Linked DNA regions of Homo sapiens: regions 1, 2 and 3 are each linked to region 4. The links come from fine-mapping of genetic effects on gene expression. A gene starts in region 4. Each other region holds a variant in brackets. All regions are shown on one strand. Distances are from middle to middle.

Region 1 (5,151 bases), 220 kb before region 4:
AACCAAAGAGAGCTGTCTCAAGAGAAGATTCTCAAAGACCAGGTGCCCACTTAACTGTGAAAAAGATATTTGTTGGTGGCATTAAAGAAGACACTGAAGAACATCACCTAAGAGATTATTTTGAACAGTATGGAAAAAATGAAGTGATTGAAATCATGACTGAGGCAGTGGCAAGAAAAGAGGCTTTGCCTTTGTAACCTTTGACAATCATAACTCCATGGATAAAACTGTCATTCAGAAATAGCATACTGTGAATGGCCACAACTGTGAAGTTAGGAAAGCCCTGTCAGACCAAGAGATGGCTAGGGCTTCATCCAGCCAAAGAGGTCAAAGTAGTTCTGGAAACTTTGGTGGTGGTCATGGAGGTGGTTTCAGTGGGAATGACAACTTTGGTCACGGAGGAAACTTCAGTGGTCATGATGGCTTTGGTGGCAGCTGTGGTGGTGATGGATATGGTGGCAGTGGGGATGGCTATAATGGGTTTGGTAATGATGGTGGTTATGGAGGAGGTGGCCCTGGTTACTCCGGAGGAAGCAGAGGCTATGGAAGTGTTGGACAGGGTTATGGAAGCCAGGGCAGTGGCTATGGTGGGAGTGGCAGCTATAATAGCTATAACAACGGAGGTGGAGGCAGCTTTGGTGGTGGTAGTGGAAGCAGTTTTGGAGGTAGTGGAAGCTACAATGATTTTGGCAATTACAACAATCAGTCTTCAAATTTTGGACCCACGAAGGGAGGAAACTTTGGAGGCAGAAGTTCTGTCCCCTGTGGTGGTGGAGGCCAATACTTCGTCAAACCACAAAACCAAGGTGGCTATGGAGGTTCCAGTAGCAGCAGTAGCTATGACAGTGGCAGATTTTAATTAGGAAACAAAGCTTAGCAGGAGAGGAGATCCAGAGAAGTGACAGGGAAGCTACAGGTTACAACAGATTTGTGAACTCAGCCAAGCACAGTGGTAGCAGGGCCTAGGTGCTACAAAGAAGACATATTTTAGACAAATACTGATGAGTATGGGCAAAAAACTCGAGGACTGTTATTTGTGACTAACTCTATAACAGGTTATTTTAGTTTGTGTTCTGTGAAAAGTGTAAAGCATTCCAACAAAGGGTTTTAATGTAGTTTTTTTTTTTTGGCACCCATGCTGTTGATTGCTAAATGTAATAGTCTGATTGTGATGCTGAATAAATGTCTTTAAAAACAAAACAAAACAAAACAAACTATGTCTTAAACTAAATAATAAAAATTATGCAAAACATGGGATGCAGCCAAAGCTGGCTTCTTATGACTCAATTCTATTGGGTTTCCTCCTACTTCTATTGTCCTACTATCTCTCGTTACCCTTTAAAATGTTGGGGATCCATTCTTAGTCCTTAGTTATTCCCATTGTATATTTCCCCCCCAAGGTGATCTCATCAAAATTCATGGCTTTAACTAACACATATACTAGTATCTTCCAAAATTTTTTTTTTAATTTTTTTTTTTTTTTTTTTTTGAGACGGAGTCTCACTCTGTCGCCCAGGCTGGAGTACAGTGGCGCGATCTCAGCTCACTGCAAGCTCTGCGTCCCGGCTTCACGCCATTCTCCTGCCTCAGCCTCCAGAGTAGCTGGGACTACAGGCGCCCACCACCAAGCCCGGCTAATTTTTTTTGTATTTGTAGTAGAGACGGAATTTCACGGTGTTAGCCAGGATGGTCTTGATCTCCTGACCTCGTGATCCGCCCACCTCGGCCTCTCAAAGTGCTGGGATTACAGGCGTGAGCCACCGCACCCAGCCTCTTTTTTTTTTTTTACTTTTTTTTTTTTTTTTTTTGAAACAGAGTCTCACTCTCTCCCCTAGGCTGGGGTGCAAGGGTGCAATCTCTGCTCACTGCAAACTCTGCCTCCCGGGTTCAAGCGATTCTCCCGCCTCAGCCTCCTGAATAGTGGGGATTACAGGCATGTGCCACCATGACCAGCGCTAATTTTTTTCTTTTTTCTTTTTTTTTTTTTGAGACGGAGTCTCATTCTGTCGCCCAGGCGGGAGTGCAGTGGCACGATCTCCGCTCACTGCAAACTCCACCTCCTGGGTTCACGCCATTCTCCTGCCTCAGCTTCCAGAGTAGCTGGGACTACAGGCGCCTGCCACCACGCCCGGCTAAGTTTTTTGTATTTTTGGTAGAGATGGGATTTCACCATGTTAGCCAAGATGGTCTCAAACCACTGACCTCAGGTGACCCACCTGCCTCGGCCTCCCAAAGTGCTAGAATTATAGGTTTGAGCCACCGTGCCTGGCGTCTTCCAAAATTTCATCCAAGATTTTTCTCCCACATTCCTGACATGCCTGTTGAACAAGTCCACTTAATTGTGCCATAGCTACTCGAAAGTCAGTATGTCTAATACTAAATACACAATCTCCCTTCCCCATACTTTTCCTTCTCCTGTATTCTCTAATCTTAATAAATTGGATGACCCATTTACAGTCCAATCAGGAACACAGCCATCCCACAATACTCTCTCTCACACACACAATTGTGTAGCCTACATTTTTTAAATCTCTTATTTTTCTTTCCTCTTCTCCATTCCCATGTCTTAGGATAGGTCCTCATCATTTCTCAACTTATTCCTGTAGTAGATTCCTGTATTAGTCCATTTTCATGCTGCTAATAAAGACATACCCGAGACTGGGCAATTCACA[G/A]AAGAAAGAGGTTTAATGGACTTACAGTTCCACGTGGCTGTGGAGGCCTCACAACCATAGCAGAAGGTGAAAGGCATGTCTCACATGGAGGTAGACAAGAGAAGAAAGCTTGTGTAGGGAAACACCCCATTATAAAACCATCAGATCTCATGAGACTTATTCCCTACCATGAGAACAGCATGGGAAAGACCTGCTCCCATGATTCAATTACCTCCCACTGGGTCCCTCCCACAACACATGGGAATTCAAGATGAGATCTGGGTGGGGACACAGCCAAACCATATCATTCTGTCCCTGGCCCCTCCCAAATCTCCACACTTCAAAACCAACCATGCCTTCCCAACAGTCCCCCCAAAGTCTTAATTCATTTCAGCATTAACTTAAAAGTCCACATTCCAAAGTCTCATCTGAAACAAGACCAGTCCTTTCTGCCTATGAGCCTGTAAAATCAAAAGCAAGTTAGTCACTTCCTAGACACGAAGGGGGTACAGGCATTGGGTAAATACAGGCATTCTAAATGGGAGAAATTGGCCAAAACAAAGGGCCTACAAGCCCCATGCAAATCCAAAATCTAGCAGGAGAGTCCATTTTTTTTTTTTTTTTTTTTTTTGAGACAGAGATTTGCTCTTCTTGCCCAGGCTGGAGTGCAACGGTGCGATCTTGGCTCACTGCAACCTCTGCCTCCCAGGTTCAAGTGACTCTCCTGCCTCGGCCTCCTGAGTAGCTGAAACTACAGGTGCATGCCACCACGACTGGCTAATTTTGTACTTTTAGTAGAGATAGAGTTTCACCATGTTGGCCAGGCTGGTCTCAAACTCCTGACCTCAGGTGATCCGCCTGCCTCAGCCTCCCAAAGTGCTGGGATTACAGGCATGAGCCACTGTGCCTGGACAGCAGTCAAATCTTAAAGGTCCAAAATGACCTTCTTTGACTCCACGTGTCACATCCAGGTCATGCTGATGCAAGAGATGGGCTCCCATGGTCTTGGGCAGCTCCACCCCTGTGGTTTTGTGCGGTACAGCCTCCCGGCTGCTTTCATGGTCTGGCAATGAGTGTCTGTGGCTTTTCCAGGTGCATGGTGAAAACTGTTGGTGGATCTACCATTCTGGGGTCTGGAGGACAGTGGCCCTCTTCTCATAACTCCACTAGGCTGTGCCCCAGTAGAGACTCTGTGTGGGGTCTCTGACCCCACATTTCCCTGCTGCACTTCCCTAGCAGAGGTTTTCCATGAGGGCCCTGCCCCTGCAGCAAACTTCTGCCTGGGCATCCAGGCGTTTCCATACATCCTCTGAAATCTGGGTGGAGGTTCCCAAACCCCAGTTCTTGACTTCTGTACACCCGCAGGTTCAATACCACATGGAAGCTGCCAAGGCTTGAGGCTTGCACCCTCTGAAGCCACAGCCTGAGCTCTATGTTGGCCCCTTTCAGCCACAGCTAGAGCAGCTGGGACACAGGGCACCAAATCCCTAGGCTACTCACAGCATGGGGACCCTGGACCCAGCCCACGAAACCATTTTTACCTCCTAGGCCTCCAGGCTTATGATGGGAAGGGGCTGCCATGAAGACCTATGACATGCCCTGAAGACATTTTCCCCATGGTCTCGGGGGATTAACAGTTGGCTCCCCATTACTTAAGTAAATTTCTGCAGCCAGCTTGACTTTCTCCTCAGAAAATGGGATTTTCTTTTCTTTTTTTTTTTTTTTTTTTTTTTTTTTGAGACGGAGTCTCGCTCTGTCGCCCAGGCCGGACTGCGGACTGCAGTGGCGCAATCTCGGCTCACTGCAAGCTCCGCTTCCCGGGTTCACGCCATTCTCCTGCCTCAGCCTCCCGAGTAGCTGGGACTACAGGCGCCCGCCACCGCGCCCGGCTAATTTTTTGTATTTTTAGTAGAGACGGGGTTTCACCTTGTTAGCCAGGATGGTCTCGATCTCCCGACCTCATGATCCACCCGCCTCGGCCTCCCAAAGTGCTGGGATTACAGGCGTGAGCCACCGCGCCCGGCGGGATTTTCTTTTCTATCGCATTGTCAGGCTGCAAATTTTACAAACTTTTATGCTCTGTTTCCCTTTTAAAACTGAATGCCTTTAACAGCACTCAAGTCACCTCTTGAATGCTTTGTTGCTTAGAAATTTATTCTGCCAGATACCCTAAATCATCTCTCTCAAGTTCAAAGTTCCACAAATCTCTAGGATGGGGCAAAATGCTGCCAGTCCCTTTGCTAAAATATAACAAGAGTCACCTTTGCTCCAGTTCCCAAGAAGTTCCTCATCTCCATCTGAGACCACCTTAGCCTGGATTTCATTGTCCATATCATTATTAGCATCTTGTTCAAAGCCATTCAACAAGTCTCTAGGGAGTTTCAAACTTTCCCACATTTTCCTGTCTTCTTCTAAGCCCTCCAAACCATTTCAACTTCTGCCTGTTACCCAGTTCCAAAGTCGCTTCCACATTTTCAGGTATCTTTTCAGCAGCACCCTA
Region 2 (5,151 bases), 110 kb after region 4:
CCTAAAATATTTATTATCTGGCCCTTATGAAGAGTTTGCTGGCCCCTACTCTAGATGAGTGTTAGCTGACTCAACAACTTCAGCAAAGTTGAAGGATTAGTATTAGCCAGGGGATGAGGATGTGGGGAGTGGGAAGGACTCCTAATAGATATGAGGTAATGAGAATGTTCTAGAGTTAGATAGTCATGATGGTTGGACAACTTTGAGAATATGCTAAAAACCATGAAATGGTATACCTTAAAATGATGAATTTTATGGTATCTGAAATATAATGCAATTTTTAAAAGTTGGGTGGAAAAAAGCAGACATAAAACAATACATATTGTGTGATTCTGTTTGTGTATAGTTCAGAAGCAGAGGCCAGGCATGGTGGCTCACACCCGTAATCCCAGCACTTTGGGAGGCCGAGGTGGGCCTCATCACTGGAGGTCAGGATGTCAGCCCCACAAACATGGTGAAACCCTGTCTCTACTACAAATACAAAAATTGGCCTGGCATGGTGGCACGCGACTGTAATCCCAGTTACTCAGGAGGCTGAGGCAGGAGAATTGGTTGAACCTGGGAGGTGGAGGTTGTAGTGAGCCAAGATCGTGCCACTGCACTCCAGCCTGGGCAACAGAGCGAGACTCTGTCTCAAAAAAAAAAAAAAAAAAAAAAGCAGAAGCTAATCTAAGATGTTAGAAGTCAGCATAGTGGCTATCTCTGCAAGGGCAAATAGCTGGAGAGCATAAGGGAGGCTTCTGGGGTGCTGATCATGTTATAATTCTTGGTGTGGGTGATGTTTACATGGGTGAGTTTACTTTGTAAAAATTATCAATTTTCTGTTTATGAATTGATACTTTATACACTAAAACAAAAGCTTCTTTTTTTTTTTTTCTTTTGAGATGGAGTCTTGCTGTGTCGCCCCGGCTGGAGTGCAGTGGCGCGATCTCGGCTTACTGCAAGTTCCGCCTCCCAGGTTCACGCCGTTCTCCTGCCTCAGCCTCCTCAATAGCTGGGACTACAGGCGCCCACCACCACGCCCGGCTAATTTTTTGTATTTTTAGTAGAGACGGTGTTTCACCATGATAGCCAGGATGGTCTCGATCTCCTGACCTCGTGATCCACCCGCCTTGGCCTCCCAAAGTGCTGGGATTACAGGCGTGAGCCACTGCGCCCGACCAAAAGCGTCTTTAAAAAAAATAAATAACAGGCTAGGCATGGTGGCCTATGCCTGTAATCCCAACACTTGGGGAGGCCAAGGAGGGTAGATCACTTGAGCCCAGGAGTTCAAGACCAGCTTGAGGAATATAGTGAAACCTCATCTCTACAAAAAATTTTAAAAATTAGCTGGGCATGGTGGCATATGTCTGTGGTCCTAGCTACTCGGGAAGCTGAGGCAGGAGGATCACCTGAACCTGGGAGGTCAAGGCTGCAGTGAGTCATGATTGTGTCACTGCACTCCAGGCCGGGCAACCGAGTGAGACCCTTATTTCTCAAAAATACATAAAAATTAAGGCTCCCTTGGGAGAGAAGTCCAGAGAATTCCCTCTTACTTTACATTTCTTATTGCTTAGCAAATTAACAACTATTTTGTAAGCAATTCTGTGAAATCCAGTGTGGCTCTTTTCTTTTTTTTAGATGGAGTCTTGCTCTGTCACCCACTCTAGAATGCAGTGGCGTGATCTCAGCTCACTGCAACCTCCACCTCCCAGGTTCAAGCAATCCTCCCACCTCAGCCTCCCAAGTAGCTGGGACTGCAGGCACGCACCACCAAGCCTGGCTAATTTTTGTATTTTTAGTAGAGAGGAGGTTTCACCATGATGGCCAAGCTGGTCTCAACTCTTGACCTCAAGTGACCTGCCCACCTCAGCCTCCCAAAGTGCTGGGATTGCAGGTGTGAGCCACTGCTCCTGGCCACCGGTAAATTGTGGCTCTTTCTTTAATGGCCTAGACACTCAACTGCACGTCATAATTAAAATTATGAGATATTTGAATACTCTTACCAAAAAAATCTAAATCAGTGGTTTTCAAGTTATGTTTTTTACAAGATTAAGGTGATATTTTGTAAATTTCTACAAGAGGCCAAGTCCTTGCTTGCCTACTTTGATCAGGGTATCTCTTCTTTACGTATCTTCTGTAGTTGAGTCCATAGTCTTGTGGCTTAAAAATATTTGAAGACTGGCCGGGCGTGGTAGTTCACACCTGTAATCCCAGCAATTTGGGAGACTGAGGCAGGCAGATCACTTGAGGTTAGGAGTTCCTGACCAGCCTGGCTAACATGGTGAAACCCCATCTCTACTAAAAATACAAAGAAAAAAATTAGCCAGGCGTGATGGCGCATGCCTGTAATCCCAGGTACTTGGGAGGCTGAGGCAGGAGAATCACTTGAACCCAGGAGGCGGAGGTTGCAGTGAGCTGAGGTCATGACACTGCACTCCAGCCTGGGCAACAGAGTGAGACTCTGTCTCAAAAAAAAGAAAAAAAGAAAAAGAAATATATATTTGAAAAAATACATAATTTGAGTATATATATATTTGAAAATATATATATATTTGAAGACCAATGAGCTTGATTATCCAGAGAGAGATCTTGGAAGGTTTTTCCCAAGACTAATTTAGGAAGAATAGGAAAGGCAGATTAAATAAGATTAAACTGAAGTTCTGTGTTTACCCTTGCAATCATCATTTAACTTTTTTATTTACCTCAATTAAGATAAACTCTTGCTGGGTATACTGGCCCAGTCTGTAATCTCAGCACCTTGGGAGGCCCAGGCAGGAGGATTGCTTGAGGCTGGCGTTTGAGACCTGCCTGGGCAATAGTGAGACCCTGTCTGCAGAATATTTTTTTTTTTTTTTTTTTTTT[TA/A]AAGATAGCCTTCTATCTATATCTTCAGGCCAGTGAAATATGGGCTTTAAAAAAGAATTCCTAGGCCGGGAGCGGTGGCTCATGCTTGTAATCCCAGCACTTTGGGAGGCTGAGGCCGGCAGATCACGAGGTCAGGAGATCAAGAACACGGTGAAACCCCATCTCTACTAAAAATACAAAAAATTAGCCGGGCATGGTGGCGGGCGCCTATAGTCCCACCTACTCAGAGAGGCTGAGGCAGGAGAATGGCGTGAACCCGGGAGGCGGAGCTTGCAGTGAGCCGAGATCGCGCCAGTGCACTCCAGCCTGGGTGACAGAACAAGACTCCATCTCAAAAAAAAAAAAAAAAAAAAAAAAAAAATTCTTAATCTCTTTTCAAGTTGTTTAGCTTTTCTCCTTTTCTTACCAGGTGTATGTGACTGCTGAGAGCCGCTTCAGCACCTTGGCAGAGCTTGTACACCATCACTCCACAGTGGCTGATGGGCTGGTGACAACATTACACTACCCAGCACCCAAGTGTAATAAGCCTACAGTCTATGGTGTGTCCCCCATCCACGACAAATGGGAAATGGAGCGAACAGATATTACCATGAAGCACAAACTTGGGGGCGGTCAGTATGGAGAGGTTTACGTTGGCGTCTGGAAGAAATACAGCCTTACAGTTGCTGTGAAAACATTGAAGGTGGGTTGCTGAGAATTACAGTTTTCAGGCATCTTTTTCTTTTGTGCTCAATCACTTGGAAATATCAGCATGCCCTTCTTTAACTTTGGAACACTTTCCACCCACTAGTGCCAAGCACATCAGCAAATTGAGATGATTAACCCTAGTGCCATTGCTGACAATGCAGAGGTAGATTATTCACTGCAATGCAGTGAAACCCACATGTGGGAAAGGTCTGTCTCTGGAGGCTGTTGATGTAGATCTTAGTGGGAGGTTAGAAGCAAATTAAAAGTTATAAAAGCAAAATAAGCTCTTTTGCTTCCTGAGAACGACCCCTGCTGGACAGAATTCTTGTCTGAGAGTCATGGGCCTCTTTCTTGTTCTGTCCTTTCTCTCCCTTGTTCTTGTTCCTCCTGTCTCTTTGCAGTTAGATCACTTCTTAATATTAACAGAAATCTTTTTCGTAGTACTACTATATGTCTCCTTTAAACATCCCAGTATCAAATTATAAGGTTTTCACTCACTTGATTCTCCCAGAGCCTCAGTAACTGTCTCTGGTGTATCACTTATAAGGGCTATTCTTTAGCTATTAAGTAGTAGTCAGTTCTGTTTCTTAAGCATATTCTGAGTGTGAAGCAATATATAAGGCCTTGCTCTCTAAGAAGATTATGATCTAAGCAAGAAGATAAGTATGTAAGCAGCTAAGTGCTCTGTCTCGTCATTCAAAGCCTGAGATATCTGGAGAAGTAAACTATGAGAGAACTGAACTATCCAATACAGGGCTCCTGTGTTTCAGTTGATTATAGGACACGATTGCTGAATTTTGCTCCTCCTGCTAATTTTTACTCCAGGGCATTTTTCTTTCTAAGTTGGACTTCTTAAAATAATAATTATTTCAGCTGGGCGTGGTGGCTCACACCTGTAATCCCAGCAATTTGGGGAGCTCAGGTGGGCGAATCACCTGAGGTCAGGAGAGCATCCTGGCCAACATTGCAAAACCCCGTCTCTACTAAAAATACAAAAAGTAGCCAGGCATGGTCGTGCATGCCTGTAATCCCAGCTACTTGGGAGGCTGAGCCAGGAGAATCGCTTGAGCCCAGGAAGCGGAGGTTGCAGTGAGATCACACCACTTCACCCCAACCTGGGTAACAGAGCGAGACCGTGTCTCAAAAAAATAAATTAAATTAAAATAATAATTATATCTTGTAATATGCTAAAATATTCAAAAGATAGTTTTTACTTTTAAAGCTGAAGCTTTATGATTGTGAGATGAATGAAATGATTTTAAGTTGAGGGTTTGTCCCTCTCGTTTTCTTCTTTCTTACCTTTCCCTTTTTCTAGGAAGATACCATGGAGGTAGAAGAATTCCTGAAAGAAGCTGCAGTAATGAAGGAAATCAAGCATCCTAATCTGGTACAACTTTTAGGTGAGGAACCTTGCCTGAACCATAGATTTCCTCCAAAAATGCTTGCCCTTTAACCCCTTGTTATCTCCAAATGCTTTTTTTTTTTCTTTTTAAATATAGAGACAGGGTCTCGCTCTGTTGTCCAGGCTGCTGTTGACGTGATACTTCCGCCTGGGCCTTTCAATATGTTGGGATTACAGGCATGAGCCACCATGCCCCGCCTTTTTTCCTCCCCCAAAC
Region 3 (5,151 bases), 430 kb before region 4:
GTGCTGGTGGGTGCCTGGAGTCCCAGCTACTCGGGAGGCTGAGGCAGGAGAATGGCGTGAACCTGAGAGGCAGAGCTTGCAGTGAGCCGAGATTGTGCCACTGCACTCCAGCCTGGGCAACAGAGCAAGACTCTGTCTCAAAAAAAAAAAAAAAAAAAAAAAAAACCATAGTAGATAAAATGGAATACTAAAAAATGTTCAAATAACCTAAGAGAAGGCAAGAAAGAGGAGGCAGATGAATGAAAATCAGGGGAACAAACAGAAAAATAAAATGGCAGATCTAAAATAAAAACATATATATAATCACATTAAACATAAATAGTCCAAACCATACTAATTAAAATTCAGATTGTCAGAGTGGATTAAAAAATAATCAAACAAGGCTGAGCACAGTGGCTCATGCCTGTAATCCCAGCACTTTGGGAGGCCAAGGTGGGCAGATCATCTGAGGTCGGGAGTTCAAGACCAGCCTGACCAACATGGAGAAATCCCATCTCTATTAAAAATACAAAATTAGCCGGGCATGGGGCGCACACCTGTAATCCCAGCTACTCAGGAGGCTGAGGCAGGAGAATTGCTTGAACCCAAGAGGTGGAGGTTGTGGTGAGCTGAGATCATGCCATTGCACTCCAGCCTGGGAAACAAGAGCAAAACTCCGTCTCAAAAAAATAAATTAAATAAATAAATAAATAATCAAACTATATGCTGTCTCAAGAAACTTACTTCAAATATAATGACACAGGTAGGTTAGAAGGATGGAAAAAAATATACCAGGCAAGCGCGCGCACACACACACACACACACACACACACACACACACACACACGAAAACTGGAATGGCTATACTGATATCAGTGCATTATGTACACTTCAGTGCAAAAAAAGTAATTGTGAATAAAGACATTTCATAATGATAAAAGGGTCAATTCACCAAGACATGTAAGAATCCTAAATGGATAACACCTAACAATAGAGCTTCAAAATGCACAACAGAAAAACTGACAGAATGAAAGGAGAAATAGACAAAATCCAAGATTACAGTTACAGACTTCAGTGTTCTTCTCAGTAATCAACAAAATCGGTAGATAGCAAGGATCAGAAGAACTGAACAATACCACTAATCAATTGGATCTGACATTTATAGAAACTCCACCAAACAACAGAATACATGTTTTTTTCAAAGACACATGGACATTTACCAAGCTAGACCACATCCTGTGTTGACAAAACAAACCTTAACAAATTTAAAGAACTGAAATCATACTGTGTTCTAAGACCATACTATACTGGAAAGACGTAACAGGAAGTTAACATGAAAATTTCCAAACACTTGGAAATTAAACAACACACTTCCAAATAATTCATGGGTGAAAGATAATATCTCAAAATAAACTATAAAATATTTGAACTGAATGAAAATGAAAATACAATATGTTCAAATTTGTGAAATGCAGCTAAAGTGATATGTAGAGACTCATAGCATCAATGCTTATATTAGAAAAGAAAGGTCTCAAATCAATAAAGTAAACTTCCATCTTAAAGAAATAGAAAAAGAAAGCAAAAATAAACCCAAAGAAAATAAAAGAAAGAAATCAACGAACTTGAAAACAGAAAGACAAGAGATAAAACCAGTGACACCAAAAGCTTATTCTCTAGGAATGGGAAGTTCAATAAAATGGATAAATCTCTAGTAAGACTAATGAAAAGGGGAGAAGACAAACTGCCAATATCAGAAATGTAATAGGAGATTATCATTGCAGACCCTGCAGATAACAAAAGGATAATAAGGGAATACTATAAACAATGTTATACATATAGTTGACAACTTAGATGAAGTGAACCAATTCCTCATTTGATAACTTAAATGAGTCACTTCCTCAAAAACCACAAAATACCAAGACTAAGATAAAATAGCTGATTTGAATAATCTTATATCTACTAAAGCAATTGATTTTATAATTTAAATTCTTCTGGAAAAAAGTCTCCAGGCCCAGATAGTTTTATAAGGTAATATCAAACATTTTAAAAATTAACTTCTCTCCCTGAAAAATAACCTGATTTTATGTAACCTTTTCCAGAAAATAGATGAGCGAATACTTCCAACTCATTTTATTAGGACAGTATCAACCTGTACAAAGTGTACATCAATAAACAAATAAAGAAAACGTGGTATATATACACAATGTAACAATATTCAACCTTTAAAAAGAAGGAAATCTTGTAATTTGTGACAAAATGGATGAACCAGGAGGACATTATGTTACATGAAAGAAGCCAGATACAGAAAGAGGAATAACACATGATCTCACTTACATGTGGAATCTAAAAAAGCAGAGTGAAATAGTAGTTACCAGAGGCTAGGAGGTGGAGGGATTGGGCAGATGTTGGTCAAAGGACACAAAATTTCAGTAGACAGGAGGAGTAAGTTCAAGAGATCTGCTATACATCTTGGTAACTACAGTTAATAGTGACATATTGTATACTTAAAAATTGCCAGGAGAGTAGATTTTAAGTGTTTTCACCACAAAAAAATAACAAATATGTGAGGTAATGCATA[T/C]GCTAAATAGCTTGACTTATACATGCTACAGTGTATACATATATTGAAACATGTTGTACACCATATATGCAATTTTACTTAATTAAAAAAACTAAGAAAATAAAGATCCACACAAACAACAAAAATAAATAAAAAGGAAATACAATTCTACATAATCTTTCCCAGAAAACAGCAAAGCGGGCAATATATTCAGATTTATTTTATGAGGCCAGGATTATCCAGTATAAAAACCAAAGACAATACAAGAAAACTACAGACCAATATCTCATGAAAACAGATATCCATTTGCATGTACTAACGCAGACAACATTACTGATACAGAAAATCACAAAAGAAACCAACAAAACACCCCCTAGAATGGATAAGTGAAGTTAGGTAGTTCAAAAAAACACCAATTTCTATATACTAGCAATTAAAATACAAAAACTGGGGAAAACATTTATAATAGCTCTCAAAATAAGTGAAATACTTAGGTATAAAATTAACAGAACATGTACAGATCCTGTATACTGAAAATTATAACACTGTTGAAGAAATAAAAGAAAACCTAAATAAATGGGGAGATACACCATGTTCATGGACTAAAGCATCAACTTTCCTCAAAATTATCTATATATATAACACAACTCCAATCAAAATCTCAGGTATAGATAAGCTGATTCTAAAATTTACAAGGAAAGAAAAAGGAACCAAAATATTAAAAACAATTTTGAAAAAGTATAAAATAGGAGGAATCATACTACCTGATTTTTTCTTTTTCTTGAGACAGAGTTTTGCTCTTGTCGTCCAGGCTGGAGTGCAATGGTGTGATCCCAGCTCACTGCAACCTCCCTCTGTCTTCCGGGTTCAAGCAATTCTCCTGTCTCAGTCTCCTAAGTAGCTGGGATTACAGGTGCCCACCACCACACTCGGCTAGTTTTTGTATTGTTTAGTAGAGACAGGGTTTTGCCATGTTGGCCAGGCTGGTCCTGAACTCCAGACCTCAGGTAATCCACCCACCTTGGCCTCCCAAAGTGCTAGGATTATAGGCATGAGCCACTGCGCCCAGCCCATACTACCTGATTTTAAGAGGTACTATGTAAGTCTACAGTAATCAAGACAATGTGGTAGTGATGAAGAGACAAACATATAGGTCACTGGAGAAGAATATAGAGTCTAGAAATAGACTTACAGAAATATGGACAATTGATTTTTGATAAGGCTTCAAAGACAATTCAATGGAGATAGGATAGTCTTGTCAACAAAGGATGCTGGATCAGTTGGACATCCACATGTAACAAAATGAAACCTAACCTAAATTTCATGCCTTATACTAAAATTAACTCAAGATGTCTTGATACTGGAAACACTGTCCATAATAGAAAACAAGTTGATACGTTAGGTTTTTTCAAAATTAAAAACTTCTGTATGAAAGACACTATCAAGAGAATGAAAAGACAAGCTACAAGTGAGAAAATATTTTTGAAAATCACATTATTTGACAAAGAACTAGTATCCTGAATATATAAAGAACTCTCAAAACTCAAGAGTAAGAAAACAACCCAATCAAAAAAATGGGAAAAAGACTTCAACAGAAATTTCACCAAGAATTGTGTATAGATGACAACTAAGCACATGAAAAGATGTTCAACATCATTAATCACTGGAATTTAAAATCATGCTGTGATACTACTACACACCTATTAAAATGGCTAAAGCAAAATTACTGACAATGTCAAGTGCTGACAAGAAAATGGAGCAACTGGAACTCATATATTATTGCTGGTGAAAATTCAAAATGGTACAGCCACTCTGGAAAAAAGTTTGACATACACTTATCACATGACCCAGCAATCTTACTCCTGGGTATTTACCGTAGATAAATGAAGCTTATGTTCACACAAAAACCTGTACATGAATATTTATAGCAGCTCTATTCATAAATACCCCAAACTAGAAACAACCCAAATGTCCTTCAATGGGTGAATGGGTATACAAACTGTGGTGTATTTATCCTATAAAATACTATTCAGCAATCGAAAAGAACATATTATTGATACATGCAAGAGCATGGATGAATCTCAAAGGTACAGAAATATACTGAATGAAAGAAGCCAGTCTCCAAAGGTTACATACTATATGATTCTACTTACATGACAGTCCTGAAAAGGTAAAACTAGAGTGACAGAAAACAGACCCCAGACCAGTTGCTAGGGGTTAGGGATGTGGGGAGACTGTGATTACAAAGCAGTAGCACAAGGGAGTTATTTTAGATGATGGAGCTGTTCTGCATCCCAATTGCAGTGTTGGTTACACAAATCTACACATTTATTAAAGTTGATAGAATAGTACACCAAAACAGTCAATTTTACTATGTGTTAATTTATAAAAGGAAAGAAATATTAACATGAAAAAAAGTTATGCAAGGGAAAAAAAGGTGTAACAGTGTACTATAATACTTGGCCAAGCCGTGAAGAGCATTTACATAGTCACAGTAATGTAAACATTGAATAGTGATCTGATGGAAAGTTTGATATACTATATCAGTAACATGGTAGGGGGAAGGGACAAAAAGGTTATGTTTGTGTGTGGTGGTGGTAAGGCGATGAAAGAGA
Region 4 (5,151 bases):
TGGATAAAGTATGTATGCCTGCCATAGGAAAGGTGGAGGTTGGAGGAACAGGAGATGGAAGAACATTAGGCAATTATAATCCAGTTATCCTGGAAAATAACTTCGAAACACTAGGTGAAACGTTTATTTTGTTTATTTATTTATTTATTTATTTATTTTTGAGACAGAGACTCCCTCTGTCACCTAGGCTGGGGTGCAGTGGCGCAATCTCCTGTCACTGCAACTTCCGCCTCCTGGGCTCAAGCAATTCGCCTGCCTCAGGTTCCCCAGTAGCTGGGATTACAGGCACGCGCCCCCACGATTGGCTAGTTTTTGCATTTTTAGTAGAGACGGGGTTTCACCATATTGGCCTGACTGGTCTTAAACTCCTGACCTCAAGTGATCCGCCCACCTTGGCCTCCCAAAGTGCTGGGATTACAAACATGAGCCACTGTGCCCGGCCCATTAGGTGAAAATTTTAGACTTAAGACTTTGTACGTAATGAATGAGAGGGAGAGTGTGGTCAAAGCAATGAGAGAAGCAGTTTCTTTGAGTGAGTTGCTTGGTGCTAAAGGTGAGGAATCTCTAGGAAGAAAGGGCTAGTAGCGGGAGAAACCAGCGCAGAGATGCCTAAGCTAACACTGTGTCTTACATAACGCTGTTTATATAGATGAAGGGAAGAGGTAGATATGAGAGATACTGTAAAACTGTAAAAAGTATGGCAATAGCCTAGAAATGCAGACTGGTGAAGTCAGGGATTGGTGAGGCATTACTCACAAGCTCCTTCCTTCTGGAGAGAGTGGTGTTGCTCCTGTGATAAGGATGATGAGGATGAAGAGTATCTGTGTCTTCAGCACGCCTTACTGCTGTTGGTGATGTGTCTGATCTTTTATGCTGGCCTCTGGCCATTGCTCAAATTTATATATATATATATATATAAAATTTGAAAAAGTTAGGCTTGTAAAACCTAAAACCATTATGTTTTTTGTATTAATAGTATATGCATATATGACACCAGTTATATGCCAAATACTGTTTTAAGTACTATACATATATATTGACTAATTTAATTTTCACAATATTCCTATAAGGTAGATACTATTTGTTATCATCATCAGTTTACAGATAATGTACTGAGACACAAAAAGGTTATGTACTTTGCCCAGATCAAATAGTCCATAAGTATCAGGGCCAAGTTATGAACCCAAGCAGTCTGGCTTCAGAGCCCCTGCCCTTAGCCACTGCACTCTACTGCAGGCTGAGCAGCCCTTATCAGAAATGTTCGGACCACAAGTGTTTCAGATTTGGGAATATTTACACACACATAATGAGATATCTTGGGCATGCGACCCAAGTCTAAACACAAAATTCATTTATGTTTCATATACACCTTTATACACATAGCTTGAATGCAATTTAATACAATATTTTAAAAATTTTGTGCATGAAACAAAGTTTATGTTAAGTACTTACGTGAAATGTTCCACCTCTGGCATCATATTGGTGCTCAAAAAATTTCGAATTTTGCAGCATTTTGGATTTTCAGATTTGAGATGTTCAACCCATATATTCATCTATCTTTATATAGTATGCATGAATTAGCAGAGAAACCAAACCATTATCCCCAAATTAAAATTTTCTCCCATAATAAAAATCAAACAGTAAACCAAATTCCGGCTCTGTGACATCTTTATCCCTTTCGAATGAATTTTTTTCAGTAGTTGCAAACACTGGGAATTAGAAGAAAAGACAGGTATTTTAAACACAGGGAAACTTTAATCCAAATGGAAAGTTCATATTTTATCCAGTGTTTACACATAGTGTTTCCGTTCCCATTTTGGAGTTAATTTCAGTTATTTCTGGCTACACCCTAGATGGCAATGGAATAATTTCATAGTGCTTTTACAACAGGCAATATCTACGTCAGTGGATGGTTCATCTAAGGTCAACCTGGTTCAGGAAAGATATGCAAAGGAGAGCTTCATCCACCTCTTCTCCCAACCCTACATTTCCAGTGGTTGTTTTGTTCCTTCTTTGCAGTGGCTCCCGTCCTGTCTAATTTAAGCAAAATTTCAGTGTAGTACCTCCATTAACTGATACTTTTTATAAAGCAAATTGGGAAGCCAAAAGAATAACAGGAGAATGATCAAGATTTGAGAATTAAAAAAAATTGAATTAAGATGCAAGTAAACACAGTGGGAGAGGGGGATGGCGAGTCAATTGTATATAGTATATGTGTATGTATAAAACGCTTCTTTTCTGCCTCATTCACTCTCTTTAGACTGCATAAGCTAAAATGAGTAAGTTCTGACTCAGAAACAGGGTCAAAGATATATATTTTTTCTCCTTTGTCATCAAAAGAAGACCTGACCACGTGCACAGTGTATAAAGGATGCCAGTGGGAAGATTAACTTTACTGTCAGGCATTGTAAGGAAACAGAAACTCACATATGGTGAGATGGTAAAGGAGTTCAAGAGGAATTCATGGTAATATAATATGAGGAATGGGGCTACAATTGCGTCCCCAATGAGACTATAGAAGGCACACAATCCAGGCCAGTGCGATTTAACATCATGAAATAATCTCCAAAAATTAAAATCAAATAAGGTAGCATTTTACTCTCTTCTTGTAAATTTTATACCATTTTAATTTTTACTGGAGGCCTGCTGCTGACAAGGGTGTTTAAAAGAGATCCCCCTGGGTATTTTAGAGCTCCTTAACTGGATGGCAAGGACCAAATAAATGCCTTGTGCTTTTCTGCCCCACCTGTGCCTGCACCTGAGCTGCGCACGCGGTGGCACTGAGCCCTCGACTCACTCATTTGACAGGTGGAGGTGGGATGGGGAAGGCCGGAGACCGACCAACCCCAAAGGCGGTAGCGTGTGGAGCCGAACGCGGGAGGGGGTCGGCTGAGGCGGATTGAGGGGGGGGACGCCGAGGTGCGGCGACAGGACGCGGAGGACGAAAGACCTCAAGCAGCGGTGGCCGGCAAATGAGGTGGGCACTGGGGGACCCACCCTGCGAGGAGGCGGGGGCGGGGACGGGGGGCGCGGCGCGGCAGGGCGGGGCGGCAGCCGGGAAGCCCTCCTTCCCCGCGGCGGAGGTGACTGGCGGGCGGGGGGCGGGGGGCGGGGGGCGGGAGACGCTCTGTCCCACGCTTTCCCAGCGCTCGGTGGTTTAAAGATGGCGGCGGCGGTGGCGGCGGCGGCGGCGGCGGCGTTGGGGGCGCGGAGCCGCGACAGGAGGAGGGAAAAGCAGAATCTGTGAGTCGCCTGGAGGCAGCGCGGCGGCTGCCGTGAGGAGGCCGGGTGCGGAGCCGCCGGTGGCCCAGCCACTCAGGGCCAGGGCCTGGGCTGGGAGGGAGAGACCGGAGCAGCGCCAGGAGCCCGAGGCCGGAGCCGAGGAGGAATGTGACCAGGGGTCGGCGGGGGCGCGGGAGTACGCGAGAGCAGGGATGGGGCAGCAGGTGGGCCGCGTCGGGGAAGCTCCGGGGCTCCAGCAGCCTCAGCCCCGCGGGATCCGGGGCAGCAGTGCAGCCAGGCCCTCCGGCCGCAGGCGGGACCCGGCGGGGCGCACCACAGAGACCGGCTTCAATATCTTCACCCAGCATGGTGAGTGTGTCTGGGAGCCGGCATGAGAGCGTGGGGGAGGCCGGGGGTGGGGTCGGGGCGGGGTGGGTGGCGGACGGGCTGCCCGAGGGGTCGGAGGGTGGAAGGTGCCTGAGAGTGGGGGCGGAATCCGCTGCCATCTGGTCCAGTCCTGGGAGGCGAGTCACACCCCTCCCCCCTCGCGTCTCTAGCCTGGCTGGCAGATCCCGGGGGCGGAGAAGGAAAGAGAAGTGGGTTTGGGGACCCTGGATGGTCTGTCCTCTACTCTGGGACGGGACTATGCGGCTGCAGAAAGAAAGTGAATGGCAGCTTCAGGAGAGGGAAGGATGAAGGGCAGTATTAGCTCAGTCCCAGAGGTGGGAGCATAAACCCGTCGTTAGTGAAGGGGAAATGGGTTGTATCCTAAGGGATTGGGAAATGGGAACTGAATTTCAGGAGATTGTGGAGTACAAGGTATGTGTTTACGTTAGGTGATGAGCAGTGTCAGGATAGTGAACTGTGGACAGTGTCAAATGCTTTTCTGTAGGGAAGATGAAGTTAGCATCATCTTATCACTTTTGACATGCTTTTGTGGTTTATTTTGTTTTGTATTTCGTTTTTACTAGAAATGAAAGGCTTTGCCAAAGCCTCTGTACTATGCTTCAGAGTAGGACACACAATTCTGAGATTGCTGGCAAGGGCTAGAGGTTGGTGGGCATGGTTAGGACGTCAGTCAGGATATGAACAAGTTTTCCTTTGTAGTGTGTGCGTGTGCCCATATACATACATACATGTATGTATGCTCCCTGTAGTCTGAAACCTATTATTTTGATCTCATTGTCAATGTATTTTTAGAATAGTTGTCTCCAAACTTTTTTTGTCTTGTTTTTTTGTTTTGTTTTTGTTTTTGTTTTTTTTGAGACAGAGTCTCGCTTTGGTCCCCATGATGGAGTGCAATGGCGGGATGTCGGCTCACTGCAATCTCTGCCTCCCGGGTTCAAGTGATTCTCCTGCCTCAGCCTCCCGAGTAGCTGGAACTGCAGGTGTGCACCACCACGCCCGGCTAATTTTTGTATTTTTGGTGGTGGTGGGATTTTGTCATATACTCCTGACATCAGGTAATCTGCCTGCCTTGGCCTCTCAAAGTGCTGGGATTACGGGTGTGAGCCACCACCGTTCCTGGCCCAAACTCTTTTTTTTTTTTTTTTTTTTTTGGAGACGGAGTCTCATTCTGTCGCCCAGGCTGGAGTGCAGTGGCGTGATCTTGGCTCACTGCAACCTCTGCCTCCCAGGTTCAAGCGATTCTCCTGCCTCAGCCTCGGAGTAGCTGGGATTACAGGCGCCCGCCACCACACCCGGCTAATTTTTTGTGTTTTTAGTAGGGTGGGGTTTCTCTATGTTGGCCAGGCTGGTCTCGAACGCCTGACCTCATGATCCACCCGCCACAGCCTCCCAAAGTGCTGGGATTACAGGCGTGAGGCACTGCGCCTGGCCACATGTCTCCTATTGAAGATGTGCTTGAGTGTCTCTTTCGGGTATATGAACACTTTATGAAGGTGATATATGAGCTAATCTTTATTAAAA

What was found.
Region 1: its variant is fine-mapped to the expression of ABL2 in whole blood (TOPMed, PIP above 0.99).
Region 2: its variant is fine-mapped to the expression of ABL2 in neutrophils (BLUEPRINT, PIP 0.95).
Region 3: its variant is fine-mapped to the expression of ABL2 in whole blood (TOPMed, PIP 0.95).

Annotation. Positions count from the first base shown.
Region 1 is chr1:179,451,932-179,457,082 of GRCh38, reverse strand. All of the region lies in intron 16 of AXDND1 (axonemal dynein light chain domain containing 1), which reads right to left. It also overlaps the pseudogene HNRNPA1P54. Among named protein-coding and RNA genes, the nearest start is that of AXDND1, 89 kb to the right of the region's middle. The variant G/A (reference allele first, on the strand shown) is at 2,673.
Region 2 is chr1:179,119,971-179,125,121 of GRCh38, reverse strand. It overlaps ABL2 (ABL proto-oncogene 2, non-receptor tyrosine kinase), which reads left to right. Exons shown (of 12, transcript NM_007314.4): 5 at 3,255-3,527; 6 at 4,848-4,932. Among named protein-coding and RNA genes, the nearest start is that of TOR3A, 40 kb to the right of the region's middle. The variant TA/A (reference allele first, on the strand shown) is at 2,845.
Region 3 is chr1:179,655,226-179,660,376 of GRCh38, reverse strand. The region is part of intron 14 of TDRD5 (tudor domain containing 5); the gene reads right to left. Among named protein-coding and RNA genes, the nearest start is that of TDRD5, 66 kb to the right of the region's middle. The variant T/C (reference allele first, on the strand shown) is at 2,558.
Region 4 is chr1:179,227,681-179,232,831 of GRCh38, reverse strand. ABL2 (ABL proto-oncogene 2, non-receptor tyrosine kinase) reads left to right here and starts at 3,155. Exons shown (of 12, transcript NM_007314.4): 1 at 3,155-3,591. The coding sequence starts at 3,435. RefSeq lists a silencer at 3,240-3,649 and an enhancer at 3,105-3,861.